3 separate regions of the Homo sapiens genome follow, and regions 1 and 3 are each linked to region 2. The links come from fine-mapping of genetic effects on gene expression. A gene starts in region 2. Each other region holds a variant in brackets. All regions are shown on one strand. Distances are between the middles of the regions. Region 1 overlaps SAMD4A (sterile alpha motif domain containing 4A). Region 2 holds the start of SAMD4A (sterile alpha motif domain containing 4A). Region 3 overlaps SAMD4A (sterile alpha motif domain containing 4A).

Region 1 (10,248 bases), 200 kb before region 2:
CAACTGGTCTGACTCCTGTCCCAGGGCTCCCTTCTTTAATCCTATCATTGTTTCTGCTCAGCCTGTCTGTGTGGCGGACTTGGAGAAGCCTGTGAGGCCCACCAGGATGTAAGCTCCATGTCTGTCCTCATCCATCCTGCATGTCCGGTGCCTGAATCAGTTTCTGCACAGTGAATGCAGTTGAATGAATGAACCAATGAGTCTCTGCCATCATGACGCATCCTCAAATGGGAGAGCTGATGCCACCTGTGGGGCGAGGGATATAAGGTCGGAGATGATGTTTGCAAGTGTTCTGGACCTAGGACACAGACTGCCTTCACTTCACAGGCCCTCCCTGCAAAGTCGGCTGCATAAGGGCCAGGGCAGGTCCATGCTTCTCCTGGGTCCGGGCAGGGAGGCTGCCAGAGCCCTTAGCATCACGTGCAGATGCCGGCGCTGCCGTTGGGTTGGGTGACCTCAGCACTGAAGAACGCATCCTCTCTGACACGCCTCAGGTCCGGGAGGTTATACAGCAGCCGGCAGGGTTTCAGGAACCAGCACATTCTTTCCAAGAAGAGTCAGCTGTAGTCATTCACGGATGTTGAAGTCAAAATGTTTTACCTCCAGTGGCCACAAGATGGAAGAGATCTGCTTTTCCAGCGACACAGGGGAGGTTTGTACCAAGCCTGTGGGGAGACTCCGGGAAGCAGGGCTGACGTAGTTTAACCAGTTGAGGGTGATAGGGGCCTGCAGAACAGTCATTTCCTGAGAAAGAGAGCTGTGCCTGTATGTAGGGGGAGGGGCATCTGAGCCAGCAGTGCAGATCTCAGAAAATGTTTCTCTTCTCCCCAGAATTCTTAAATTTCCTAAGGGGAGAAGTGGCAGGAAGGAGAATTCTGGGCTTGTGCCTTTCTACTTCCAGGCTTTGGTGGCCAAGGAAGGAGTTCTAGATTCTGGTCAGAAGCTCATCTGAATGTGGTGAGGAGGACACTCACAGGTTCTTGGTATCTTTGTCTTGGCCTTTCTTCCTTTTTTCTCCCATTTTCCCTTTTAAAAATTTCGTTTTCATTTTTACGAAGGCTTCAGATTTTTTGGTTTGAAGGAAGAACTCAGGGCCAGGAGGGGTAGAATAAGTTTCACATGATGAGACCTCCTTTGGAGGAAGGACAATCTGACTACGTGAGGTAGAGACAAGGGCCGAGTGTTTTTTTTTTTTGTTTGTTTGTTTTTAATGACGAAAACTAGTCCTTTGAGTTCTGAAGTCGGAATTTTGGCCACCTGGTAGATGATTCAGTATTCTGCTATGATTTTTCCTTATTTAGCGTGGATAGCGTTTTCTCACTTTCCTTTTTGGTTGGATTTTTAAAAAGTTATTTCATATGCAAAATACAGAGTCAATGAGTGATGCTAAAATGATTTGTGTTTCCAGGAAGGCAAGACTGAATTCTTAAGCAATATAATGTGGGAAGAGGACTCTGTTATGGGATACTTATAGTCACTGGAGAAAGGAGGGATCCAGGGACTCTTAGGACTCAGCTGTATAGGGGAGGGGAGTAGGACGTGATGAGGGGAGAATTTGGCTAGGCCATCTTTCTCTCTCCTGATGGGACCCTTCGAGGGTTATTACAAAGCCAGCTTTGCAGAGGGTTGCCACTGCTGGCAACCAGAGTGAATGCTTGGGTTACTTAAGATCGCTAGGCTTAATGAAATCATCAATGCTTTCTGGGGAGAGAACAAAGTGACAAAAGCAAGTTTTCCTTTCTCATTCTCTTGCCTTACCTTTCTAAATCTGATTTCATTACACTGAAATGTTGAAATGCATGAAAAGTCTTTGATAAAGTAACATTAATAAGAACCAATTAATTTGGGATTTGTGATAATTCAAGCAGGGGTTGGGTTGCAGTTACCTTTGTATTATTGGAGAAACAGGTCTTCAAAGCAAATTAATAGCACAAAAAGATCCCAGAGGAAATACTTATGAGTATAAAACATTTTCCAGCCTTATAGTAACATCCAGTTGAACATCCACAAGCGATTCATTCTTATCTAATCAATTAAAAGGGGTCCATTAGGACTCCAACCTGGCAAACCTTGGGTTAGCCCAATCCAAGTGTTACTAACAAACACCCTGGAGAGGTCAAGGTTCATGTCCCCTGCTCCACCTCCAGAAGGCTCTCGGATGTGGACCAATGACAACACAGGGCTGACAGAGGCCAGGGTGGGACTTTGGGAGGAGCAGCAAAGAGCCGCCCCATCTTCATCTCCAACCTCCGAATGCCTTCTTCCTCTTGGAACTTGTCTCCCAAGGGCCTGGTGTTGCAAGAGGAGTCTGGAACCTTTTCTATTCACCTGGGAAAAGTATTGCTGCTCTCAGAGAAAAGCCACTTGGGATGGGGGTAGGCCCCAGGGCAGGAGGCCAAGGAAGCAGACCTTGCCTTTCATCTGGGCCATCGGGAATCCTCAGGGCAAAGAGGTAGTCTAGTCCAACCCACAAGGGTTGGCAACCCCAGAGGGCTTGGGGCCAGGGAACTGGTCCTGAAGAGTGTCGCTTTGCCTGAACAATCTTTTCTGCTCATCATCCTGAGACCATGAGAGTTGCCTGGCTTCCATAGGGTTAAAAGCATGGAGCTGGAGCTGGTGCCAGCCTGCCTGGTTCAAATCCCCAATGCTGCTGCCTATGAACTTGTCTGTAAATGGGGTTAACAACAGCAGCTCTACCTCACATGGTTGTCATGAGGATTAAATGTATTAATATTCTTAAAGTGCTTGGATACCACTTGGCATATGTAAGTGCTAAATAAATGTTTGTTTAATAAATAACCGTTATATATGCTGGAATGTGATCACACTTCAGTGTTAAAATTAATCTTTCATGAAGTCTTTTCACAAACTTCAACTGGCCTTATCTCCCTTAAATCCAAAATAGTGATGTTTTAAGGCACGCTTACGCAAATAAATGCCCAAAATTTTAACACCACGGGCAGAGAGCTTCTATACATGCACCGAGAAATGAAATGAATTCAGACCCTTTCAGGTGCAAGTGAAGAAATTATCTGCTCATGTTTTAAAAGTGTAAAATAGAATGTTAATTTTTCAGGATGTTTACATTCTCATTCCCTTATGTCCCAACAATTCCCTATCATTGTTTAAGGCTTAACCCTTCCTCTACCCTTAATTTCTCCCACAAATTGTCACTGCAGTTCATCTTTAATATGTAATTGGATTCCTCAATTTAAAACTATATTAAGGTAATGGGTTCTAAAGTACAACCAGGCTTATTTTTAACTGCGTGCAAGAAGCTGAAGTACTATGGAAAAATCAAGAATTGTACTGCTCCACTATGAGACTGCAGACCAAAATAGACTAGCACTGGGCTCTTCACCCTGCCACCAACTATAATTAGCTTGTCTACAGCACGAAGGGGGAAAAAAATCACACTACCACTTAAGGTGCTGATTGATAGAACAACCCATTTTTATCCTTTCAGATCCCCCTTTTGTGGGTAAGCCATCCTGTGTTTTGCCTGCATTTGTTAAATCATACCCACTCTCCCCTCTGATACCCATCCGGACTATTACCATCATTTTGACAATGCAAACTGTGTTACAAAAGCTCACATTCAGCTCTTCGCCTGGGAATGCTCACTCTCACAGCCTTTTCCCAGCCCCACCTGTTTAAGCAATGCAATTTGGAACTCGCCACAGGGCATCTTCGTGAACAAGGAATGGTGCCCTGCCATATTCCTGCCCCAGGAACCGAGGTAGGCAACAAGGCGCCAGGGGAACCACTACGCATTACAAAGAATGAAATCCCAACATACTTTCTTTGCTGTCGATATCCTGATATGTCTAGAAGGGTTTTCCGAGGGAAAGACCGAAAGAGCTTCTGCACCTGCTGTTTCCATGACAACAATCTTTTTTTCTGTGTCTCTGTAAATGCCTGCAAAAACAAACAGGACTTTTAAATGGGTGACGCAGCCTGGCATTAGAGGGAGAAACATGCAATTAATAAGGGGAAAACATTGGAGTCTCTGCAGTTGCCTTTTCTTCACCTGTTTCTAACCTGGTCCAAACGTAGTCAGTTTAATTTGGGAGCTGCCCTATTTTGAAAATTTAAGTTATCTGACATTGGAGGTGCGTGATAAGGTACACGCATCAAACTGTTGACAACCCTCATTTTTGGTGACATTTCTGGCAGATCCATATCCACATTCCCCCTCCCTCCTGACTCCACTCCAGACTCTATTTATTAACCAAGAATGAATTGCAAAATTGATTGTTGAATACTCTGGCTTTTGCAGGCCCCCTGCATTTTCATAATCAATGAAAATTCTCAACCACTCCAAAAATCAATCTGCTTGATGGTGTGTGGGCACCCTAGAGTGGTCTACAGGGTGTCAGAGAATGGACTATATTCTCTGTGTTTCAGGGCTTTGCTGAGACATCTCCAGTTAATGGGTCTCTTGCCTTACAAAAATTCCAGTGTACCAGTCCTGACTTAAACCTTCTCTAAAGTTTAGGGAAGTATGTAGGTCTGATGCCTGCAGAACTCTTTTCTAGCAAAACTGGTGTGTGTGTTTTGCCTGCTGCCTTGTAACAAACTCTTACCTATGTTATATTTCCTTTTGCGTTTAGCCTTTGTACTTGCCACAGACTAGGAAAGGACTTTATGTGGGTTAGGAGTCTCCAAGGCAGGAACTCTCAGATTCATGATATATTAGAATCACCCAAGGAGACAGTCAAAATTCAGATACCTGGGCTCCCTTCCACATGCCCAGAGCCTGATTTAGTAGATCTGAAGGGGATGTCTAGAGAGTTTGTGTTTGTACCAAGTGCCCTGGTAATTCTGCTGCAGGTAGAGCATGAACATGAGGTGTTCTAGATGGTGAGGACCCCACGTCACATATGAATCCCCTGCCAAGTGACTAGAACTGTAACTTAGAACACGTGCTGTGGGAAATCCATGTGATTTGATTGATTCACAGTAACAAGGAGGGAGAGAAGTTTCCGAAGCAGTTTTGTCAATAGGGCATGAATTCCTTTAAGTAGTCATAAAATATTACTCAGTAACAGACTAAATGACTAGTTCCCATAAAGGAAACAGATTCCTTAAATGGAGAAAAAAAATGACAGCTTAGTTGTCTCCCAGTGATGCTGAATCTTTAAGGACCTAAATACCAGGAGAACTCTGTGGACAAAAGCAGAAGGATGTTAATCATGTGGCAGAAACGTCATTGAGGACTTACAAACCCCTTCTTCCCGGGTGACCTTAGCCAGATGCCATTAAGAATATGCATCAAGGTGGGCTAGGAGGCGAGGGCGTGGCTCTCCTCCACAGTCCCTCTCATTGGTTGGTGATGCTCCCTGCATGTCCAGCTACACACGAGTACCTCTGAAACTGGGCAAAAGGCAAGCGTTTCTGCTGGACTAACAGCGAGAGGGGATCATTTCTGCTTTTGACTGGCTTATTCAGCCACATGTTGTGTGAGGACACATGTGGGCATGCTGGTCAGGGTGACCTGGGGAGGAGAGTTGTGGGCCAGAGGAAGGCTCTGGATGCAGATGGGCAGGGCTCGAATCCCTGCACGCCTTTACGCATGCCCCTCTACCCAAGACTCAGTGCCTCCTAGAAACTGAGGATAATAATATCTCCCTCAAAAGGATGTTGTGAGAATGAAATAACACATGAACAACACTTAGAATACCTGGAACGTGCCTCGCTCTTAATAACGGTTCAAATAGATGCCACTCACAGGTGTCACACTGGGGTTTTGTTTTGGACTGCACAGACCGGCCGTTTGGTGGTGGTATACGGCTGTTCATCGCGTTAAGTATTCAACATGACCTTGAGCTCCAATAGCACACAGCAAATGACTTCAAGGTCTCTAAACTATAATACTGAGCTGGTCTGGTGCCAGCCTGAAGGACAACTGGCCTGAGTTTCCAAGTGACAACGGAGTAAAGGGCTCATTTCATGGATGTGCTTCCTAAGACATCATTACAGACATGACATCTTCCCTGGTGGCAAACAGCATCCAAGAAGGTGGGAATGTTGGCGCCTTCCTGGGGAGGTCGGCGCATTCCCTGAGCACCTCAATGGGCAGCGGGCTCCTTTCCTTCAGGGCTGCAGATGGGAGCCAGCCCATTAGCAGTGCTGAGTGAGAGTGGGGGCCGGTTCTCAGCTGGGGATGTGGTGCTC[G/A]GTTGTGGCTGGCTTCAGGAGTTTCTGAACACTGGTTCCTGGCCTACAGGGGAGTGCTCAGTTATGGGGGATCTGCATTGGCTATGATGCCCAAAATCTCACTGCAGCCCCCTCCGCTGGCAGCCCCAGGTTGGGCTGGGGAGCAGCTTCCCAAGGGGCCTGGAGGGGAAGGGAAGGCTTCATGCCCAGCAACTGCCCAGGCACCCCTAGTCACCACTCCAGAGTTCTGGCCCTCTCAGGCCTAGACCAATGCATCTGTCTGGAGGAAGATGGCTATGGTGTCCCAGCATATGTGGCTGGATGAAAAGGTTCATAAAGCGGCAAGAGCTCATCTTCTCAGAGCCACCTCAAGACACAGGGAAGTGCCCAGAGGCCTGGGATTATAATTCAGGAGTCAAAGTGACTGGTCTCAGAAGTAAAATTCAGAACTTTCCTCTCCTTCCATTCATGACTCTGGGGACTCGGTCCCTCCATCCCGGGAAGGAAGGGAGGTGTCCTGGCCCACTCAATACCTTCCCTGCTCCCAGCCAGCTAAGGAACAGCGTGTCCGGGCTATGAAGGGGCGTCCTGTCTCTCTGTGCCCGGGTGAAACTTCTTCCAGGATGGAGGCTGTGCGCCTTCACGGGGCCTCACAGGCAGGGCGTGTTCTACCCACACAGAATAACCGGAGGCTGTGGAAAATTATTCAGACAGCTTTTCCTCTCTCTCAAAGTAAAATCATAAAAAGCCCTGAACAACATTTTCCCTTCCAAAGCAGCACGCAGGCCCCTCCATCCTGACATGAACTTAGCAAGCAGACACCTCACCAGCTCCTTCCTGACCGGGGCCCCCAGCCACGAGAGGCCCCTCTGGGCAACCAGAGGAGATCACCTGGGGCTGCACGGAGGTCAAGGGGAAAAAACAAAACCAGAGCCAGGGTACCAAGGGAGGACATGCAGGATGGCAGGCAAGCAGGAAGCGTCAGGCCAGAGTTTCGGGGCTGCCGAGGGACAATTAGGAAGCCTGTGGATTGTTTGGCACAGGTAGCTGGAGGACTCACGATTTCTGTCTCATGGGCTCAGCTGTCTTGAGGCAAGGTGGACAGTACCTTGTCCTCCAATATCAATGCTGAGAGCAGGCGTGGGAGAGGAAGCAGAGTTCCGGTGTGCTTTTATCAGAGGCTGAAATCCTCCCCATTCCGTCTGCCCCAAGCCACCCACAAATGTCCTACTTCTCAACAAAACACGGAGCCCTGCAGACATCACTCTCTTCTGCCTCCTTACGAACCGAGTCTGTACCACCAGGACTCTCGCTTGCCTTTCAGGTCTCAGGGTGGAGAGGGTTCCTCCACGGAAATGCCCTGTTCTGGCTCCAGGTTTGGTGCCCGCTGCTGCTGCTCCTCTGTGCTCCAGGGCACTCAGGGATGACCTTATCAGAGGCTTTCTCATCATGGCTGTGATGGCCTGTTTCTTTCTGTCTCACCCCTTCTCTCACTACTGTAACCTGCCTAATTCTCTCACTACTGTAACCTGCCTAGGTGCTCAGTAAGTATCTAGGGAATGGACGAGTTGTAACATTCTTCACTGTGTTCTTGCTTTCTCTTCCTTTGTCGCTTTTTCCTGGCCAAAACGAGTCCAGTGTCAGGATTCGAAATAGAAAAGGATTAGTCAAGGCTTGTGGGGAGAAGGCCTTGTCCCTGAAACAAAGTCACAAATAAGCCTTCAGTACGGGCTTTTGACAATGCCTGGGTGCTCTAGGGAAGCCATTAAAGAGGGAAAAAACCATTTTTTTTTCAGTGAAAAGTCTAGTACTTTGGTATAGTTAAACATTTCAGAGGATGGCGTGTCTGAGCCCCCAACCTAGGCGGCTGGTCACTGTAGTCACACTGACAACTTTGGCCAGAGCCGCTTGGGCACATAAGAATCCATACGGCCAAGAGGAGAAACTGCAAAAATGAGGGTTTGGGGAAGTGGGGAAGGGGGAGCTGGGATGGAATCCCAGAGGGGGACTGTACCCTTGTATGTGAAGTGTGGGTAGTGGGTGAGGGCCGTGAGAACTTCGATAGCACAGGGCCCATGTGACAGCTGGAAGGGTGAGAACATGAGAGGGAAGTGGAGAAGGGGCCTGGCCGCTGTGCTGGGCGTCTCCCTTCACCGGACCCTACTGGACTCCTGGAGTACTGGCTGCCCATGCAGCAAAGGTGAGGAGGCCTGGGGCCTTTACTATTTTTTTTTTTCCCCGAGACAAGTCTCACTGTGTTGCTCTTGCTGGAGTGCAGTGATAGGATCATAGCTCACTGTAGCCTTGGCCACCTGGGCTCAAGCCATCCATCCTCCCACCTTGGCCTCCCGAGTAGCTGGGATTACAGGTGTGCGCCACCACACCTGGCTTTTTTTTTTTTTTTTCGTAGTGACAGGGTCTTGATATGTTTCCCAGGCAGGTCTCAAGCTCCTGGCCTCGAGTGATCCTCCCACCTCGGCCTCCCAAAGTGTGGGGATTACAGGTGTGACCCACCACCCCGGCCCCCTTACTATCTTATTCTCACATCGAAATCCTACAAAAAGACTTCACCATCCTAGGTTTATCTGGTCCCAAGTTTTCTCTAGTCTAGGCCTTGCTGCTGTAGCTCTTTGTGGGGAGGGAGGGGTGCCCAAGGAGCCACTGGAGTTTTAGGTCTGAGGTGCAACTCCCTCTCCCTACATGTCCCTTAGGGACAGCCACCAGTGCTGACGGCTGCCTAGCCCCGCCATGCCAAAGGGTCTATCTCACTCTGTATATGAAGACTGTGCCTGAGGGTCCAGTAGGCACACCTGCAGCCTGCCTCAGGCCTCCTCCAAAAGGATATGTGGCAAATACGATTCCTACAACAATCGCAAGCCCAAACACACACACACATATACACATTCATTATTTCTTTATGGGCTCTCTTTCTCCCTTCCTCTCTCCAGTTCCCTGAGCTAAAAGGCAAGAGTTCAACACAAGATTTTTAAAAGACCTGACAATGCCCAGGGCTAAGCAGCAGGGCTCATGTGTTACCCTCTGAGGCTTGGCCACCCGGGGCTGCTTCCCCAGCCAGAAGTCGTTGCAGGCGTTCACTGCACATCAGAACACTCAGTCTGGGCAAATCTTTGGACACCAAAGTAATGTTCAAGCTGTGTTTGGGTTTGAGGCTGTCATAGCCTAGTTCTGCCCAACCTATTATTAATAACTGTCCACCACTCAAAAACAAGTTGTTGGAGGCTAAAATGATCACATCACAGAAACTCTGAGAACCATTTCTAAGCAATAAAAAAAAAATGGTTTTGTAAAACCTGTCACTACTCACCTCATGAATTAGACACTTGTCTATGAGCTGTAAATAGGAACTTATATTTTCCTCATCAGGTCTGGAGACCAAGAGCTGTGTGCACACTGTAATTAAAAAGAAAAGATGAATTAGAAAAATGCACCCCTTTCTAATCTCTGGGACCTGACTCTCATTTCCCTTCAGGTCCAACACTCTGAGAGGTATGTGTGTCTGTGGCTTTATGTAAGGCTCACAAAAAAGGCCAAGAGGCTCCTCATTCCACAGAAGTCAAAGGCTGGGTCACCGTGGGAGCCCTTGTCTCGAGAAGCCCCTTGGGTTAATTCCAGTCATGCCATTCTATATGAAGCCTTCTGCAATAAGACACTGCAATAAGAGGAAGAACACAGCAGTGAATAGTGGCGTCCTGAGCTTGGTCTTTGAAAGTGGCTCTGTGTGAGGGGCTTCAGAAGTATCCAAGACCCTGACACTGTCAGAGAGCAGCCTCCGTGATTTTATGAATGAGCGCACACCCCTCGCCAGGTGCAGAGACAGCGGCGTTTGTGTTTGGAGGAACGAGCTGGCACCTCCTGGAGACGGGGAGGTGTGTGGGTGTGCACATGTGCAGGAGGCCTGCTACTCACTCCTCAGAGGGTTGCTTTCTCAGAGTGATATGCACATTTATGCACACACAGGCGCAGGCTCACCTACACACTCAAGTCAGTGCTAAATAGGATGGAACAGAGTTAGTCTGCGGGTAGAGTATACACACGCACTAGGTTTCTCACGGCCATGTTACTGTGGCCCAT
Region 2 (10,248 bases):
GAAACCAAAACCATAAAAATCATGGAACCAACATACCCACCCTCTAATGACAGCAAGTTTACACAAATATGGGGTGAGGGTGACAGCCCCTCATCCCATTCTAAATATGTTACCTCCAATACACTATGGATTATCAATTTTTTTAAAAAAGTTAGAATTGTGTCTAGAATAAGAGTAATTACATTCTGAGAGAGAGTCTTCAAGCTCCACAATTATTTTTTTGTCTCAAACATCACCATTTTGGATACCCTTTTCTCTTGTATTTAACTATAAGTATAGGAATTTATTGTCATTTACTTACCACAAACATACACAAATAGTGTATATTTTGTGGGTTACGTTTTTGTGGATTAACTTATAAATCTCTATGAAAAATATATTTCAAGTCCAAGTGACAAAAGCCATAAATAAACAATGCCACAAAGTCTATTTTTCTTTTGGAAACTTCAGGTAAAGTCAGTGGGTTGCATTTTTGCTACTTGTAGGTATCAAATGACCTGCTAGTCCTGGAACTGAGACTGGCCAGAAGTCTCAATGTTCAACTGGAGCAGTAGCTGAAGAGACTTATCTAAGGTTATAAGGATCCTGGGAACAAGACTGTACTAGAGAACTGATCATGACCATATCTGTTAAAAGAAAAACACATACAAATAAATCCATAGGGACTGATTCAATCATTTCTTGGAATCTCCAATGACCATGAGCCTGAGGCAAAGGATGAACCAGTGAATCACTAGATTCTCAATAAATTTAAGAGAATGAAAGCACCAAATTACATCCCACAAATCTCAAATAAATCATGTTTAATGCGCAGGATATCTCACTATTTAAAATCAGTCCTGCATAAAACGAGAGATATATTCATACTATTACTAGTAATTTTTTTTTATTATACTGAGATCGAGTCCCATATATGAATTTGGTTCCCATTTACCAAGTTTTAAAATCTCTAAACACTAGACAAAATGTGAGGGTTTTTTAAATTGATGATTACAAAATAAAGTGATACAAGATGACTTCGGTACAGGAAATCTCAGCAATCCAATGAATGAGTCATTCTGCACAGCCTAGTTTTCTGAATTGGTAAGAGCCTTACACATCAAAACAGCTCAGAGGTTAATTATTCTGGGTGTAAACATTTCCAAAGTATATTGAACATTTCCTTCTCTTCTTAAAGAGTGTATCTAAAAATGTATTATTTCCATAGTTCACCGTTAACAACAGTAAATAGCAATTATTTGTTTATGTTATTATAGAGTGGTGCCTACAAGGTCAATTGAGGGTTCCCACCCTAATATTCCCAAGCCTTCAAAGTTTCTGCCCCAATTCTTGTCTAAAGTTACAGTTTTTCTGTCTCTTTCCAAGTTGTCAGGCTGTCAGGGGTCACTTTTTACTACTGATTACAGCAGTCCCTCACCCCATTCTAAATGTGTTACCCCCAATACACTACGGATTATTTGTCAAATTTTTTAAATGTTAGGATTGTGTCTAGAATAAGAGCAAGTACATTCTGAGAGAGGGCCTGAAATATTCTCTTGGACTTTCATGCTATCTACTCTGGTTGCGAAGTGGACTTTTTGCCCCCTTCCTGGTTCTTGGCTAGTTTCCGGATATGCAGAGAGCCACACTACAGACTCAGGTATGCTATGACAACTCCTGATGCTCTTTATGATCCCCACACTCCGAAAGTAAACCAAATCATCACATGACCTCCTAAGAAATTTCTGTCCTGGCCACACAACAAAACAACTGCAAAGATTTCCATGCAGGCAAAACGTCTAGGCGAAGGATTAATCCAGAAACTGGAGACCAGTTCCTATCTTACACAATGGTTCTATATTTTGTATATCTACATCATTTAGCAGCATGAACAGGTGGGTATCTTATACAAATAAGTATGGCCAAACATGTCTTAAGGGAAAAAAAATGCCAAGTGACTTCAAAAAATTCACAGTTCAATTTTTTAAATTATGAGATTTTTAAAATTAGGCCACCTTATTTTAACATTTAACTGTTTTACTTACTAACCTGGTGGCTGCTCTATTGGGAAAAGTCATCTCCATTACTCAAAGGGAAAAAGTGCTGCTCCAACATTTGAATAACCTAAAGATGAGTTTGAACAGTCCCTACCAGCACTGAAATCAAGCATTCAACCTAAATGACTCTGCGTAAATCCTCTGCAATCTATAAAATGCAAAAGTTTATATAACCTTGTTTGTCAAACCTGAGAAAGTAAAACCGAGCAGGTAAACCAGGCTTCCCGCTGAAATTAAGGAAGGAAGCAAAGAGGGTGGATCATCAGTTACCCAATTATGCTTCCACACCCCAGTGAAGGAGGCTGGCCCTCCAGCTATTTATAAACGTGGAGCTCAACCAAAGGGGGCCCTGTCATCGCCACCCCAGTGAGTCCTGGTGTGAGCTGGGAGGCTCGGGCTCAATGGAATCTCCCTCAATGTGGCCCTCCATACTTGGCCATGCAGGATCTTTCGGGTGCAGTCCTGTCTGGTCAGGAAAAGAACTGTGAAGATTTCCAGCGGTCACTTCCACCCTATGATTCTATATATGGAAGCATCCCATTCTAGTGTTTTCACCATCGTGCACACCATACTAGGGAGGAGGAATGAGTAGGCCGGCTCGCTTCTTGCTGCTCTGAAGGCACACTCACTTTAGTGTCTCCCAGGCCCCACTGCCCTGGACTGGACCTTGTCATCAAATGGCAGCCCAGACCTCTGCTGAGCTTTGCAGGCTCGCAGCTCCAACATGGAACAGCTGGAAGAGGACCCTGCATTCTTTTCTCTGCATAAACACTGGGGACTCTGTTCACCCTCCTGCAGCAGCATGAACTAAAGAATTTCCCCCTATCCAAAATCACAACCATCAGACTTTCCCCCCATCCCCCAGCCTCCTCCTACCCTCCAGGATATAATTTCAGTCTGTCACCACCCACGCTAGCAAATAGGAAACTGCTGGACCTTTCGACTATATTCACTTTCCATACTAGTTGAGGTGTCTGTAAATACTAGCAGGGTAATATGAAACGATTCTGTTCTATTCAGTAAAGTTTCCTAACGAAAAGCATTAAGTAACCCACTTCATGCCTGTCCTTTCTCCAAGACCCTTTTTTTCTACAAGATCCGTATCAATATGGATAATGTCACGAGCAGTAAGCTTAACCGCATTATATATATATATATATATATATATATATATATATATATATATATATATATGCTGCAAATGTCATTTTACTAGTCTCTAGCGTCACCTGCATATTATTCTGAAGACGAAGCTCTAAAACCAGAATATCTGTGGGGAAAAATGAATAATAAAATTGGATTTTCATGTACTCCTCACACAGCCTTATCCAAGCTTGGCTTCTGAAGGGCAGTCCCGGGCATCTATCATGTGTTGCTGAAATCCAGCGAGCCACGTTGCCCAAAAGAAGGAGGAGGAAGGAAAAAACACACACACCCAGAAAATCCAGACTCTACGTGACCTGACTTACTTATTTCCCAGGAAACTGCATGAGAGAAAAATCAATCATTCATGCTACCGTAGCTACCACACGGAAAGGGCTGACGGAGTTCACAGTGGGCAAAATCCCAAAGCGGCCGGCGGAGGTAAGTAGGTGGGGGGCGGTAGTGGGGGGACACCCGGAGGGGGTGGATTCCGAGGGCCTCGGGGCCACGCCGTCCAGGTCCCGGCGCGGCTGGCAGGGACTGGCCTCGGCCTGGCCCGAGGCAGAGAAGCGGAGGGAGGAGCGGGGGTTGGGCAGGCGGGACGGCGGCGGCGGCCGCCGCACACTTACCGGGGCTGTTGGCCTCGCGTTCGAGGACGTGCAGCTCGGCGCAGTCGGCCAGCGAGTGCTCCAGGCAGAGCTGGAGGAAGCGGGCCTGGGTCTGGCTCACGCGCTTGAGCAGCGACAGCAGCGCAACAGTCTGCTCGCACTCGTTCCAGCCCTTAAACCAGCCCGCCAGCACCCCGACCTGGTCGCGAAACATCATGGTTAGGGGGCCGCCCTCGGTCTACAGAGCCCCCTGGGCGCCCCAGCCCGCCCCGCCCGCCCCAAAGTTTGGCGGAGCCGCAGCCCCGCGGCCGGAGACGCGTTCCTGTTCCAAGGTGGCTCTGGTGCCCGGACGCTGCAGGTACTGCCTGGGCTCCTGCCTCTCTTGTCTGGTTTCAGTTACGTTCCGGTGGTTCTGGCTGATTTCCCCAGAGACGATGACAGACAGTAGCACGGAAATGTTTCTTTAAAAAAAAAAACGACTTTTTAAAAATCCCCCACAAGGCACACAACTGAATGAAGAATGCTTTCTCCCCCCTTCTTGCAGCTTTGGGATGGTGATTTCCGGCGTCCTGGGGTCTCCTCCCCGCTGGGCGGCAACTCGGACCCTTCACGCCCGCATTCCCGAGCGGCGATCACCACTGGAAGGAGAGAAAGAGCTGCAGTGAGACCTCGGCTAGCGGAGGAGCGCGCCCTGGGGGGACGAGGGCATCAGAGGGTGCTGGGGCCAGGGGAGGGGGCGTCCCGCGGAAGGTTGGGTTCGCCGAAATCCAGCCGCCCCCTCCGCCCCCTCCGCACCCGATGTGGGAGATGGGCTATTCCCCACCGGGTAACAGCGAGAAGCCTGCTTCCCAGGTGCGGGAGGAGACCCCGCGGCTTCCTGTTGCTGCCGCTGCCAACGGCTGGTGCTCCCCTCACGGCCCGCCTGGGGTGGCCTCGGGCGCCGTGCTTAAGAACGCCAGCACCAGCAACAGATCTTCCCCGCGCAGAAAACTTGCAATGCGGCTGCGAAGGGGCGCGGGGGTGGGGGTGGGAGCTAATGCAAAGCAGAGGCGGAGGCAGCGGCAGCCCGAGTTCCTTCCTCCTCCTCTTACTCCTCCTCCTCCTCCCAGAGAAGCAGCCGAGCGGCTGCAGCTCCATCTACAGCAACAGCCAGCATCTCCACCGCCAGGCGCCCCTCTGGATTTAGGCCGTGAGCAGCCGCGGCAGCAGCTCGAGACAAAAATAAACTCTCTCCACCCAAAGCTCCGCGCCCAGCGGGCGGCGGCGCAACCCAGAGCCCCGGCTCCCCCGCGCCGCGCCGCACCAGCCCACCCGGGAGGTCTCCCTGGGCCTGCTCCGGCCGGAGCGGTCACTGTGCGCGCGCGTGTGCGTGTGTGTGTGCGCGCGTGTGTGGCAGGCATCCTGCCGCCGCCGCCTACGGGCTGGTCTGTCCGGCCCGGAGCCTCGCCCGCGCGTCGCAGGCCGAGGGCGGCACAGCGCTGGGCACACGCCCCGCGAGGGGACGGCCGGGGTCCGCAGCGCTGCTCCCTTCGGCCAGCGGGGCGGCCCCGCGGGGAATGCGGATCGGCGCCGCAGGCACACGCCCCCCAACGACAGCAAAGAAAGTTCGGCTGCGGGGGTTCCCCCAGTCCCATCCCGGTTCTCGTGGCCGCCGCCGGCGGGGAGGAGAACCCAGCGACTCAGCCTTCAAGGAGCCGCTAGCTTCCAACAACACGCTGCTTCCGGCTCCCAGAACTTCTCGGGCGGAGGGGGAAGCCCCCGGGGAGGGGACCCCCAGTGACCCGCGGGTCCCCCGCCGAGGGCCGTAGGGAGGGAGCGCTCACCTCGGCGCGGCTCATCCCGGCGGCTCGGGGGCCCTTGCGCGGGTCCGGGGCCGCGGCGGCTCTCAGCGGGGTTGGGGGCGCCCGGAGCGCCGGCCGCGGGCCATGCCGTCGGGGCGGGCGGCGCGGGGAGAGTGCGGTGCTTCGAGTCGGGGCCGCTGCAGCCGCCGCTGCTGCTGCCTCCAGTGTCGGCTCGCGGAGGACTGAGCCGCCCGAGCCGGAGCTCCCCACATGCTACTGATTAACATACACCATTACATCATGGGCTTGGCAGGGAGCGCCCGAGCGGGGGGAGAGGAACCCGGGCGGCGGCGACGGCACGCGGGGGGAGCCGGGGGGAGGAACCCCGGACCCGGCGCAGGGCGGGGGGACGGATTCCTAAGTGGGGACCAGAAAAAGGGGAGGGGAGCGGAGTGGGAGGAGCTGGTGGCGCAGAGGGGTCGGGTAGAAGGAACCTCCGAGAGGAACGAAGAAGTTCGGGGAAGAGGACGGGTCCGGGTGAATTTCTTCCTGCGGCCGCCTGCGTGTTCTGGAGGGGTCGGGACACTCAAGCCACTGGAGCCCCGGCAGAAAGGGACCCGAGGGCGCTCGGGCGGGGGCGGTGCTGCCACCCGCTGCTTGTCCTTGGGAATGTGGTTCGTCCGCTCGGCTGACCCTCGGCCCTTCTGGGGCCCCGGGGTGGCCGAGGTGTTTGGCCCCCGGGCGGTGAGACCCGAGGTCACTGCCGCACTTGCTGGGATGGGTTCCGGGGGTCGTGGAGGCGAAGGGTTCACGAGGCTGAGGGGCAGTGCGCAGGGTTGGACCTGCCCAGGCGCTAGGTTCCGTGCCGCCCTAGTCCAAGGGCCTGGCCCGGGTCGGGTGCCGGATGCCCTTTGCTCTGGCGCAGGCTCCTAGAGGCCGGCCCGGCGCCTGGCTGAGTCCCACTCTTCCCCGGGGAGGTGGCCGAACTCCTGAGACCGGTCGGGGGAGCTGTGCCTGGCGCGCGGGCTGCGGCTTCTGGCCTGGAGCGGAGGCGAGCGCCGCCCTGGGCGACAAAGAGGCGGGGCGAGGCCACCTGTCAGCGCTTAGGCGTCGCCAGGCCTCGCAACCTTCACCTGGATCTGGAGAGTGCGCAGGGCCGCGGCCACACCGGGGCTTCAGGTCCTTGCCGCGCGAGAGGCGAGGAGGGCGCAGCGCAGAGGCTGAGTGGCGCAGGGTGGGCTGCGAAAGTGCCTCTGCTAGTCTTGAAAGTAAAGGTTTGGTTAAAAATACCCTAAACCCTAAAAACCTCTGTACCTCCTGATATGGGTTGAATATTCGCAAGAAGGACTGGATGACTAAATCTGGGCTATCTCCGTGATTTCAGAGGAAACACTGCTCCCTCCAGCAACTTGAGGCTTTGTTTATACGGGAGTAATTCTGAGAAGGCAGTGAAACGCGTGTTTCAGACCCAGCCTTTCCTACTCCTGCTAATCCACTGTTTTGAAGAGAAAGTATCTGAGATATTATTCCACTAATTAACACTTTTGTTTTCCAACTCCGGCATATGTCCCTGGAATTTAAATGCTTTCTTCCCTTCCTCCTCAAATTTAGTTTCTGCAGCGTATAGTTCGTTTCAGACACGTGATAGCACCTAACCATCTGTTAGGGTTTTTGAAAGGTCTTGTCGAGGTCGAGCTGCAAAAATGTGGATTTTTTAAAAGTTAATTATTAACCAGACAGGTGAGGTATCCGCTTAATTTAATGAATATTTTGCCCTATTTAGAAAACAGGAAACCTGAAGTCAGTGTTTTATTTTTGTTTTGTTTTGTTACTGTAGAGGCAGAAAGGCTTGATAGATTTTCTCCAAGAGATTACTATGAATTAGCTAATTCTTAGTAATAACTTATATCAGGAAATAGGGAGGATTAGAGAGTATGGTCTACTTCGGTATATACCTTGCTATAAATTGTAGGCAAAGCAGATGTCGTTCTAGGGCTTTTGGAAGCTCCCAAGAGTGAATTTTTTTTAAAAGAAAGTGAAAAAACCAGAAATTTCATTAACATGTATTTTCACCTGCAGCTTACTAAAGGTATAGTAAAACTAAAAACAAAACAACAAAAAAAAAAAACAAAACTTAAGCTGGTGAATGAAAATACTGCCATCTACTGGAAAAGTGTAGTTCTTACACCAGCCTTTGACCTAGGAAAAGACATTGATTTATCTCATTTTTGAATTCTTACTGTTCAGGACACTCTAAGACATATAAAGTTGAGCATGACATGAGCTGTCAGTACTCTTGTATTTGTGTGTTAACAATTCCTTTCCTCTGGGCAAAGGAAAGGGAGTATAAATAAAACCCAGGGATGTGGCCTCACTCTTCCCCAGAGTGAAGTCATCACTCTAAAGGAAAAAAAAAATACATTCATTAAATATAAGGTATTGTATTAAGTGTGGATTTTTCCTATGTCAACCTGGACCCAGTATTATTGATAAATAAGAAGTGCCTAACACTTACTATATAGTCACATCACTTGAAAAATGAATGAAAATATCCTTTCATTAGAAGAGATATTACTATGTCTATGTTCACTGTATTCCTATTTATTCATTTGAAAAATACTTATTGTGTCACCTTGTGCCAGGCACTGGGTTAGGCAATAAGTACCCTGAGTATTCTGAGTACCAAGTACAGGCACTGAATACACGATGGGGTACTAACCAAGAGATACTTTATATGAATAAAACACAGATCAGATTATCATGAATTAACATTCCCAACATTATTTTGCTTTTCTCCTCCTTAGAATCTGGGAAGGGAAGAAATTGTTTTCTGAGTGAATAATACTTTTGATCAAATAATTAAAATGTTCAGATGTTCCAAAGATTACTAATTCTAGATAAATCATTGACATATTTATAAATCACTGTTTAAGAGGATGCCTGGGTATTATTTGCATAAATAAGAAATCCCAGAGATTTCATGTTTATTTTAAATTTATATTTCTTCTAGAATAATCTAAAACAAAAGAAATGCATTAGATATAAAAACAGAGCTGTAAGCTTTAATTATTTGCTTTATAAATGAGCAAAAGTATTAAAATCTCTACATAAAGGTAAATGACAATGGATAATTGCCATTCATTTAATCATTTGATAAATATATATTGAATACTTGTTCTGGGCCAAGTCCTCAAGATAAAATATTAAGACATTTGGTATTTTTTATCTAACACAAAAGCCCATATAGCAAACATATATATGATTATATTATATAGCAAGAAAATATATAAATAAAATTTCATATATTCATTACACATTTTAAATGCATATATATGCCATAGGAAAATGTGTGAAAAGATTTACACCAAAATGGTAACTAATGGTGATCTTCTCTGCATGATAGGATTTCTGAGTATTGTTGTCTTGTTTCTCCATATTTTCTAACTTTTCTACTGTGAGTAAGAAAACTAAAACCAAAACACTACGTGAGTTCAGGCCTACTGTCTAAAACTTAATTTTAAAAGAAACTAAAGAAACTCTACTATAAAATTTAGGTCTATAACTCCCAAGAATTGTTTGAGCCTGTATCACTTCCTACCTAGGTCTTATCCTAGACTCAGTAGTGGGTCTCCCTTCCTCACTTCTGATCTCTCCACTCTCTAGCTCAGACATTTTCTGTGGTTTCTGAATAGACACTGAATACATTCCAGACTATTTGGGCTGGCATACAAAGACTCCAGGATTCGGCCACTGTCTGCCCTTCTGCACGTCTCTTCTACATTTCATTCACTGATTCATTCACAGAAAGTATTTGTTGAGTATAAATCACTGTGCTAGGCAATTAGAAGAGACAAAGGTAGAAGAAGAACCATGCTCTCTTCAACCTCCAGTGTGTAGCATAAATTATGTTCTTGGCACGTGCGTGCACACACCCACACTTCACAAAAACGTACAATGTGAAGTGGGTCTGAGGGGAGGCAACACAGTGTTGAGAGAGATAAGAAGAGGTAGCAATTCTGCTAGAAAATTAAGGAAGACACTGTGGCTCTGTTGCCTTTTGAGCTGGTGTTCATTGGATAAATAGTTTCAACACAGATAGGCAAAATTTTAAACATTTAGGACACCCTATGGGGACCAGGATATCTAGATATTGTTTGTATCAAGAAAGCATCCTGAGGACTCCGTGTTCGTGTATCTTAAGTTCATATTTCTTCTAGCAGTTATAAGTAAAACAAGGGAAGGAAATGCAGGTCTTCCCAGACTTTGCTGTACGCTAGTGGAAAGTGATCCTCCAGTAACCGCATCTACTGAATGAGCTATTATGTATCCTTTTTCAGATTACCTGAGAATGCAATTTTTAGGACTCTACCCCACTGAAGTAAAAGCACCATTGCTATAAGATAAAGTATACTAAAATATAAGTATAAATACAAAAATGTTAATTTTAGCAGTTTGTAATAGCAAAATGCTAGAATATCTATCTGCAGGGCAATGAGCAAATAAAGTATTAAACTGCCATACTGCGAACTTTATGCCCTTTTTAAAAAATATATATATATTTTAGAGACAGGGTTCACTATGTTGCTCAGGCTGGTCTCAAAACTCCTGGGCTCAAGCGATCCTCTCAAAGTGCTGAGATTATAAGCGTGAGCCACCTCACCCAGCCTTATGCACTTATTT
Region 3 (10,248 bases), 220 kb before region 2:
AACTCTTTACACATTATGTACCCTTTAAAATTATTATGTAAACAATACACAAATCAAAGTTTAGCTGAAGTTTTGTTGCAGGGAATTTCTTCCTTCTTTCCCCTACTGCCATGGGCCCTCTCCTATGGCTGTTTCCAGCAGGGGCCTCAGGGACATCCAATCAGGATTAGATTGGATATAAAAGGGAAGCCACTATCTTGCTTTGGGTGCACGTGCCCGCGATATCCTTCTGTGGCCTGCCTGTGAAGCCAGGCCTTCCGAGAAGCCTCCCCAGGGCCAGGGCTTCTGCTGTCCTCTTATGTGTCTCCTATCTCTTTCATGGCAGTACTCTTTCCCCTGTCCCCGTTCCATCCAGAGAGCTACCTGCATTCCCTCCACCCCCCTCCCAGTCTCATAATTCCCTAGAGACCCCTCCCCACCCCACACACCAAACCATCCCATGACAGAAACAAATGACAAAATAACCAACCCCAGGTCTACTGATATGTTTACGAGGATGACCTACGCTCTCACAAAATCAAAACGGGAGAGGGACCAGGGGGAAAAAAGGCTGCAAAGTATCTTGGAGGATTCTGTGCAACCCTGAAGATGGCGGACACTGGACCCGCAGCAGTCGATTTCACGGCCAGCGCGGTCACTCTCGTCTTCAGCTTCTAGATGGTGGAGGTCCGGTCAACCCCGTCTGGGAGAGAAAGCAGCAAACGATGGGCACAGGTGAGCAAAACAATCCAGTTCGTGCCCACCTATGCCAACGCCATGCACGGTGGGCCTCCCAGCCTCTGAGGGCAGAGAAGGGCACCTACGTTCATGTGTTCACGCATTTACATACCCACCCACATGATATCTGGGGAACAGCTATTTTTGCCAGGAGCCATATTGAACCTGAGAACCAAGATGAAAATATCTAATCCTCACCTCCCAAGTACTTATATTTGAGGGTAGACACAGACATGTAGACAGACAATAATGCTATATGTGATCACTGCTGTAATGGAGTAGGTACCAAGAGAGCAGGATCGTGGAGGAAGGAATGATGGCTGCCCGGTTGGCCTGGGAAGTCAAGGACAGTTTCAGAGAGATACAAAGTGACTTTTGTAGCTGGTGCTGGCAGGAGGAGGAGGGTGGGGATGGTGTGCGGTGCATGCATAGGTGGGATGATAGGTCATCCGGTGGTGGAGCTGAGGGTGCGTTGGAGGTTTAGGATGAAGGATGGGGAATGCAGTAGAGGAGATGGGGTGGAAGAGCCAGGCAGGGGCTGCAACGGACACGCAGGTGGACCTGTCTAGCTCACATCCCTTTCTTTGGCAGCCTCTCCTTCTCAACCCACGTCCCTGATGAGACACTGGGGACAAGGTGGCTGTGACCCTGTCCACAGCTGAGCAGACCAGAGGGATGGACACATCTGACCCAAACAAATCCAGATTCTCTGTCTCGAGAATCTGATCAAAGGCAGAGATGTCTGAGGTAGGTGTTGTGGGCACTTAGAACTGAACAGTCTTGGGGAGGTGGGAGAGTGCTGAGGCCGCCCAGAATCTGCCACATCTACGTTTTGGAGAAGTGGATGACCCAGGCTACAGAGAAGGCAGGGGATATGACCATCAGAGGTGTGAGGCCTGCCCGGCCCCTTTTTGGCTGTCTGCTTACACGTGGGTTCTAGAACGGTCCCCAGGAGCAGACCATAGGGTCTTGCATACCATGAACAAGAGCTTAGAGGTAGGTAGTTGGGGAATTATAAGCAGTAGAGTAATGAGATTTAATTTTAGAATGGTTTCTCTGGCAGCTGCATCAGATAACCTGAGGAAGGATAAGGCTGGTGGCAGGTGGACCAGTTAAGAGGCCCCTATAACAGTCTGTGCCAGAACTGACAAGGATTTTTTCCAGTGAGCAGAGAGAGGCATGGATTAGCCATCACAGGCGGTAGGAATAACTGCGTTCAGTGACCACTAAATGTGGGTGAGACAGGGCTGTGGGGTGCCTCCCTGGCTTTGCTGATGTCCCAGTCCAAGCCCCAATATTACAGAACTGGTCCACCAGATGCAGCATCTCTATTTGCTTGGCAGAACTTGGGTGTGAGAAGGGAGTGGCAGTGTGTTCCAGGGAAAGCTGGAGGACCCAAGTGACAGGCGTGCTGAGGCCACCACAGGGGGTTGGTTCCTGGCTTCCTTGTGGGTGGAGCCAGGCTGGCAACTCTTGCCAGTGGGGCCTTGGAGGAGAAGCACTTCCTCAGTTGAAACTTTTGAGATAACTGTAGGTTCACATGCTGTTGTAAGTAATAGTCCAAACAGACCCAGTGCACTTGTATATAAGTTCTGTATGATTTTAGGGGAGATTTTAAAGAAAGGAAGCAATGGTCCCTGAGTGTGTCAGTGGTGTCAGATCACCAATCCTAGAGGCCAACAGATGTGAGCCTCTCTTTCTCCATTCCTGAGTTGCAAGCATTGGAACCTCTTTCACTGTGCTTTCCTCTCCCTGCCCGTTCCTCTTCCCATAAAAGGACTTGACTCATTAGCATACTGTCTCCAGCAAGGCCATCTTTCCTGGCACCTGGAAGGGGTTGGCCAGCAGAGAAGCTCTGTCATATTGGGAGGGCACACTGCCACTGTGCCCAACTAGGCCACCCTGAACTTAATTTGCATTCTCTGCTCAGGAAACTGCTTACGAGGCTTCCCACCAGAGGAGATCATTGGGAAAAAACACAGCACTAAAAAAGCTTAGGAGATTAACAAGATGAAAACATTAGCAAAAAACCCATCGGTTCAGAGAGGTTTTCTGTAAAAACAGAACAGACTGAAAAAAACGAAGTCTTTTCAATGAAAACCTTCCTTTAATAAAGAGCATTTGGTATTCTTGCTGCTAATGATGATAATGTTGGTACTTAGCAGTTTGATATGAGCCTCCAAAATGCCAATTGTCTGAGATGTATCAAGCCCTGGGGGAAAAGGTCAGTTCTCCTTTTTCTTTGGTCAAAAGCAGTGAAAGACTGAGTCAGTCCCCCACCCAGCTGGCCACTGTCGAGCAGGGGAGCACAGGGGCTTCCCTCCCCATGTCAGAGCTCTGGCAGGTGCCAGCTCAGGGGACTCACTCACCAGCTGCTATCCTAACTCTGGCCCCAGGGAGACTGTCATTACTACTTTTAATTGAAATATTTGCATATCATAAATTGCACCCTTTGAAAGTATACAATTCAGTGGTTTTTAGTATATTTGCAAAGCTGTGCAACCCTCACCACTATCTAATTCCAGAATATTTGCATCCTCCTCCCTTCAGCCACTGGCAACCACTCATCTACTTTCTGTCCCAGTAGATTAGTCTATCCTGGACATTTCACATAAATGGAATCATACGCTCTGTGGTCCTTTATGCCTGGCTTGTTTCACTCAGCATAATGTTAAGATTCATCCACTGCATCGCATAGGTTGGTACTTCTTTGCTTTTTAAAGGCTGAATGCTCTTTCACTGTTTGGATACACCACATTTTTTTGAGCCATGTTCATCCTTTGGTGGACATTTGAGTTGTCTCCCATTTCTCATTAGGGGGCTGCTGACCCAGTCTCCTCTATGAGGTAAAGATGAGCTGGCAGCACCTCCTGCCAGAGGTACCAGGGATGGCCCAGTGATGTTCCTGAGATCTGAATGGCCAAGGCAGAGAGCAGTGGCTCGCAAATGAGGCTCTTTATAGAGCTCTGGGGGAAGTCACAGAAGGGGCTGTGTCTTCCCACCATCTGTTTGGTGAAGCTCTGTGATGCCCTTGGAAGGCTTTCAGCTCCCCCTGATGCTAAGGTCAGGTGGGTGTGGTCCCGGGCCCACCACTCTGCTCCATGCAGAGCACTGATCTATTTCATATTTGGTTTCAGGATAAGATTGTGTTTGCAGAGACTAAAAATCTAACAACCTTAGGTCTGGAGGACAAGGCTCTCTGAAGCAGCAGAGGATGGCAGTCTTTTCCCCACCACTGCCAGGTGGCGCACGTCTTGGCTCTAGGTGTGCAGACAGCCCTTCTCTGGGTGGGTAAGTGTGTCTAGACTGGATAGGGCTATCGCTTCTCGGCCTTTTGGCTAAGAGCAAGTGTAGACTGGATAGGGCTATTGGAAAGGCTCACAGGAGGCCTCTCTGTGTCTCTGTGGCACAGAGCCTCCCAGGAAGCTGGCAGGAAATGGCAGACATCTCTTCTCTCCTCTGCCTGCCAAGCATCATAAATATCCAGGCCCAGAGAAAGGTGCCCGCTTAGTACCAGGAGGGAGCTGAAGGCCTCCCAGGGCTGCTGTGACCAAGCATGGCTTCCAGCCAAACACACGGGGGAGCACAGATGCTTCTGTGAGCTGCTTGTGGGGCCACAGCCCTGCACAGCACAGCCCCCATTCTGGGCTTGGGCAGTGGACGTGCAGGCGCCTCTAACTCAACCTGTCCCTGTCACACAGGAAAGGACACCTCAGCCTGCTTTGGGCTCCAGGTGTCAAGAAAGTTGTTTGCAACTGGGAGATACACAAACAAGCTGGGTTTTCTGTTTTTCAAAAATTATATTTCTAAGGCAAGCTGGGCTATGCTTGGACCAGGCTGGGGGATCTAGTGCAGAGAAGGGAAGCATCCAGTGTTGTGCGGGATATTCCTACTAAAAGCCATGTCTCATGTCCCTGACTCCTCCAGGCCTGGCACTTGGCTGGGACAACTGCTGTGGTGTGATTCCCATGTGCACTGGGAGGTGGAGCTTCTGGGGACAGAGGGACAGCTTTGATTGCCAGGTCCCTGACTCACCTCCCAGAAAAGGAGGAGAAACAGGGCACTGGCCACTTGGCATGGTGCCGCTGGAAAATGGTCCAACAGTACCCTAAGGCCACTCTTTCTCCCTGTCCCCTGCCTACCCCTCCTTGTCCTCCCCCAATTCTCCTGAGCTCCTGCCACGGTATAGACAGCAGATGGCCAGTTCTCCCAGGCACACGGTAACAGGGACATGGGGACATGCAGGAAGAACACACTCACCTCCCAGGGCGTGTTCGGTCATACTGAGGCACAACGACTCCAGCCTGTTGTTGATGTCAGGTTCGGTCACGGGAAGCTGGAATTCTGCAGGCGATAAAGGGTTATGTTGGTGACAAGGAGGAGATAAGCAGGGTGCCACCTGGTTCCACCTTCAGGAGAAAGGTCTGGTGTACCTCCCTGGGAGGACTTGGGGACTGTCAGCGCTGGCATGGAAGGGGCTCCACTCAGGCTCAACCAACCTCTAAGGTCTGTTAAACACAGTCCACTGTGAACTTGGGAACCTGGAACAAAACGGAGACTAAAAATAGCTGGTCATGTCACAGTCTGTGCCTCCTCTGCTCAGAACCCTCCAGCGGCCTCCCATCAAAGTAACAGCCAACCTCCTGCCCTGGCCCATAAGGCCCCGCATGATCCAGGCCCTTGTTATCTCTGTACCCTCATACAGCTCTCTCCTTCCTCTGCTCTGCCCCAGGCCCCCTCCTACCTCACGGCCTTTGCACCGCTGTTCCCTGGGGTGGTTTCCATGGCTCTCCCTGCCTTCACATTTCTGGCTCTATCATCTCCTTGGAAAGGACTTTGTTCCTTGTATGAGCCATGCCCCCACACTATCCCTTTCCCCTGCTTTATTTTTCTTCATAGCCTTCGCCCACAGCTGTCATATTTGATATTTGTATTCACTTTCTACTGTCCCCCTCCCCTGACCCCGCTGAGTGCTCACCTCATTGGAGCAGAACATGGCTCTGCCCCCTGTGCCTAGAGCAGGGCCTGGCATGCATCTAGAGTGGGAGAGGAAAGCCAGGGCCCAGCACGCACCTCTTAGTGTGAGACCACGTGGGGGGCTTTAGGTGTGCGGGCTCCTTAATCTGCCCAACAAGCCCAAGTGGGGTTCAGAGAGGTGAAGTCACTCATCAAAGTTAGCCAACTAACACAAAGCTGGGACAAGACCCTCTCTGACTCCAGAGCCGGGGCTCAGCCACCTGCCACAGCAACTGCAGGTAACTGTCAACACACTCAGCCTCGAGGGCCTCTAGAATCAAGGGCTGAGACACCCACTCTGCAGGCAGTAGGGGCTCGGCTCCCACTGACCGACAGTGCTGTGCACATTCTCACCACAATCTCCCCTCTACCACCTGGAACCCCTCTATCTCCCCAGGTTCCAATGTCGCCTCTTGTGAGCAGGAGGCAGTGTCTGGGAGCCACCTCCTCTCACCTGCTGGAGCCCTCACTGTCAGCACCTCCGCAGGCCTCATCCAGTGGCGACTTTAAATGTCCTCAACTACCTGGAAGTGCCTTGTAGACAGTGATGATGCTTCCCTATCTCTCTGAATCTCCCACAGCGCCCAGCCCTGGCCTTCTGCCTCATACATGTCTACTGAGCGAAGAAAAAGAGAAAGTAGAAGAAGTAGAAGGAAACTCTGACAGCTAAGAGTTGTGAAATCCTTTTTGTTTTTT[T/G]TTTTTTTTTTAAAGTTTTGTGACACTGGTTTGAAAAGAATTGCAAAATCCTAAGGGGAGAGGCAGAAAAAAAGTCCCAGAGGGGGTGTCCACAGCGGGGTGTGTTCCAGGTGACCGAGAAGTCTCCGTGTTGCCACCACCTTCCTCTGTGAGCCTGGGAACCTGTTCCATGCTGAGGGCCTTAGCTCCTCTACCTGTCAAGTGGGCAAAGCATCCCGGGGTCCCCCTGCAGGCCACTTGCCTGCTCCTTCATGTCTCCACCAAGGGAGCACATGGGGCCAGAGAGAGAAGAAAGAGAAGTGAAACGAAGTTGGTGGCTTGGTGGGATAGGAAGCTGAAACCAATGGTTAAGTCAAAGTTTTGTTTTCCTTGATTTGCTATACATTAAGATAATCTCTGCAATGTGTGTTTCCCATTGTCAGCTAATTCAGAGGCAGATGTTGCTTCCGTTATTTAAAAATCTCAGAAGCCTGGCAAAAAGGAACGCTATGGAAAGCACCAGAGAGCTGACTGTGTTCTTCCTGACCCATGTTCCGGCATCGATGGGTTTGGAAGACAACCGTGCCAATACGTGAGCAGACGGAGGCCGACTGAGCTTCCAGGGAAGTGGGGTGCCACAGAGAATGGCAGGAGTCTCCACCGCCCCCACCCACTAGTTGCTGTTAGAGTAGGGTCGGGGCAATTAGACAATTCCAGGGGGAAGAGATTTTAGTATTTTCATCCATTCATGTGAAAATCATATGCATGCAAAAATTAGCAGTCTTCAGGGTGTGAAATCTATAAAATAGAAACACAATTTTATATATAGCGAGTTAGCAAATATGAAAAAAAAAAACAAACCTCAGCAATTATAGCCATCCATATGCTCATTGTAAGATTTAGTTTACTCTCCAGCGCTCCCCTTTAAACAAACACTGTGGAGAGATTTGGATAAATAAAGATGCTCGACATTTGGAGAGAAGTGTTTCAGCTGCAGGATTTCTTGCCAACACGCAGCAAAATGCCATTTTCCAAGCCTGGGATTGCGTGTTCCAAAAAGGGGGCTGAGAAACGCAGGGCTCTCCGCTCCAGAATCCCCAAACCTTCGTGGCTGCTCTTTTAGGTGGGAAGTGGGGGTGTTCGCTTCTTCTCCCCAGCTCTTTGCTTCCATGCACTGGGGAGCCGTGACCCCCAACACTCCGAGTGGCTCTGAAAAATTCTAAGTCTTGGGAGAAGCCCATATGTTCACACTGCAGAGTTTCCTAATAGTGTGACTTTTTAATTGTGTATTTGATAAAAACAGATCCATGCCATCTCGCCGCACGTATAAGACAGAAAGACCAGTTGGGTGGAAAACAGCTTCCATCTCAGGCTAGGAACCCTCAGCTGTATGGGGCTAGGTGCCCCAGAGGGGCATTCGGGCAGCTCTTGCCCCACAGACCAACATAAACCACCAGGCCAACCCTTGCTGTGGCTCCTGTTAACCCTGAGGGCCCATCTCATTTATCCCAGGCCCCTGCCCCTCGTGGCCACAGACCAGGCAGATGGAGATGTGAGTCTTCAGGAAGGCAAAAGGAAAGACCCCTCTTTAACTGAGCCTCCTCTGCTCTTTCCCAAAGGAGGCATGTTTCTTCAGCTCAGATGGCATCTCTGAGGACCAGTATTCCAGTATTCAGTAAGGATCGCTAGTTTTGGAATCCCCAAGGTCTAGGCTGACTTGAGACATTAATTGTATCTTTTCAGAAGTCCCACACGTATGGAGTAGTCCTGTGCTCAGGCCCAGGGTCAAGAAGATTCCGGAAGAGAATGCTACCCATCCCTAATGAGGTGCTGCTGCAGCATCCACCTGAGGAGCCCAAAGGGCTTGTCCTTGGCAGTAACCGTCCATCCCTGCTGGGTCTCACATGTGTGGCACCCACGGTGCAATTCTGCAGTGCTTTTTCTCCAAGGCACTGAGGGTAAGGAGCCAATTTCTTTAGGACTTTAGAATAAGAAACAGGCTGGGGCATTCCAGGAAAAATCTATAGAATCCCGTTTTGCCAATGACAGCGGAGGCAACTCTGTTGGATAACTAGAAAGGTGTGGAGTCTGGTTCACTGAGCAGCAGGGTTGCTAGGAGGAGAGAAAGCAGGGAAGACAAAAAGGGACAGAGCAGTGGGACCTGGTCTGCTGTGATGAGATGAGTAAAGAAGAAAGGAAGACAAGAGAACTAAGAAGAAAGGGGGAGGATGGTAACAAAAGGGAAAGAAACGGCACAGGCAGGGAAACAGAGGGGTGGGGCAGCAGGCAAGCTGAGGATGGCAGAGATGGCCATGGAGGGTGGCAGGAGTAATGAATAGCATCCCTGAGTTGACCATGGGAACGCACCTTTTCTCTGGTGGCCTCCTAACATTCCTAAGCCTGCAGAAGGTCAGTGCCTGTGGAGGTCCTCTGGGACCAACGCTTTCACAAAAAGTGATGGGTACAACATGGTATAAGATGATATTGTACCATCTTGCCCCAAGTTGATGCTCAGAGGCAGGAGGCTGTGGGCCCAGCTGGGTTCTTGGCTATGACAGAATTGATTTATTTATCAATCTCCCTACCCATTGTCTGCCAGTCCTGAACAGGGATGTCTGCCTTGATTTATTAGAAGACATGGAGGAAATATTTATCCAGTACTGTACTTGGGTCCCTGTTCTGGTTTCTGCCTCTGCATGGCAGCCCCTTCCACACCCCACTGGACCCAGTGCACCAATAACTCTCTATTCTTTCTAAAGGCAGTTCTCCGGAAGGAAATGAAAAATAACAGCCTGGAGCCCTGTGCTCCCAGATATATGCAGCGTGCTTATGGCAGAAGAATCCCAATTGTGAGCTGGTACTTAGAGGAGGTTTGCTGTGGTGATCAGGTAAGTCACACCATGAAATGCTGCCATGTGAGGTGCCACTGGACCCAGCTCACATCCAGCTGGTTCACAACCAAGGGTAGTTTGCATGTGGCTTTGGGCAAGGGAAGAATGAGATTTTCAGAAGGCTGTGCAGCCTACCCTTCTGAAGGTTTTCCTTTGAAGCCTGCTATGGGGTTCCCTGCCCTTTTCTGTTAGGCCCTCCAGGGGGTAAAGAACCTCCATGATCTCCTACTGTTGAGCCAGGGCCACTCCAAGATCCTCTCTGACTGGATCCCAAGGACAACTAAGCCTGGGTCAGTAGAAATTAGTTGCTTCCAAAATAAAGGATCCCTCTCCAAGCAATTTCCAAACCAGTTATCTAGTTGAGAAAACGCCCTGCCTCCATGAGGAACGTGACCATTCGCACAGGCGCCACACTTGTTTTCTGGTGAGCGTATTACACCTCGTAGTGTTTCTTACTCATCACTGGCAATAGCCACCTGAAGGGTCTCCTGGCTGGTCCCAGGAAACAGCTAAAACTTGTCCATGTGAAGGTGGAGGTTGCAGTGAGCTGAGATTGCGCCACTGTACTCCAGCCTGGGTGACAGAGTGAGACTCCGTCTCGAAAAAAAAAAAAAAAAAAAGCTTGTCCATGTGGGAATAACATGAAACACCACTCCTGAGGGGCCTCCAAGTGCCCGTGAATTGTGTAGAACCAGGAACGAGGGATGAGTCCTGTAAACCCGAGCAAGGTGACTGATGAATTGATCCGCAACTTGGTGGGTTCTAGCCCTCTGTCTTCTCTGTATGAGACGTTTAAAGTCTCCCATCAGTAGAGTTATTTTAGGTTTACAGAATGAAAGCATCCTTCAAATGCATTGTAGTCTTCAAGATTTGCCCAGTTTACAATGGATTCTCTGAAGACATCTAACAGCCAGGAGGAAAACACTGCATTGTATGATAACAGTTTTCC

What was found. PIP is the estimated chance that this variant, and not a neighbour inherited with it, causes the effect.
Region 1: its variant is the best candidate, but not a certain one, in a credible set for the expression of SAMD4A in whole blood (INTERVAL, PIP 0.82).
Region 3: its variant is the best candidate, but not a certain one, in a credible set for the expression of SAMD4A in whole blood (TOPMed, PIP 0.86).

What each region holds. Positions count from the first base shown.
Region 1 is chr14:54,763,774-54,774,021 of GRCh38, reverse strand. It overlaps SAMD4A (sterile alpha motif domain containing 4A), which reads right to left. Exons shown (of 13, transcript NM_015589.6): 8 at 9,482-9,567; 9 at 3,800-3,918. Among named protein-coding and RNA genes, the nearest start is that of SAMD4A-AS1, 81 kb to the right of the region's middle. RefSeq lists enhancers at 1-547, 1-1,030. The variant G/A (reference allele first, on the strand shown) is at 6,178.
Region 2 is chr14:54,561,673-54,571,920 of GRCh38, reverse strand. SAMD4A (sterile alpha motif domain containing 4A) reads right to left here and starts at 4,793. Exons shown (of 13, transcript NM_015589.6): 1 at 4,583-4,793; 2 at 3,809-4,425. The coding sequence starts at 4,004. RefSeq lists silencers at 3,762-3,821, 4,062-4,121, 4,962-5,151, 5,272-5,321, 5,882-6,011 and 2 more.
Region 3 is chr14:54,779,350-54,789,597 of GRCh38, reverse strand. SAMD4A (sterile alpha motif domain containing 4A) reads right to left here. Exons shown (of 13, transcript NM_015589.6): 12 at 4,978-5,061; 13 at 1-682. The coding sequence ends at 654. Among named protein-coding and RNA genes, the nearest start is that of MIR4308, 94 kb to the left of the region's middle. The variant T/G (reference allele first, on the strand shown) is at 6,430.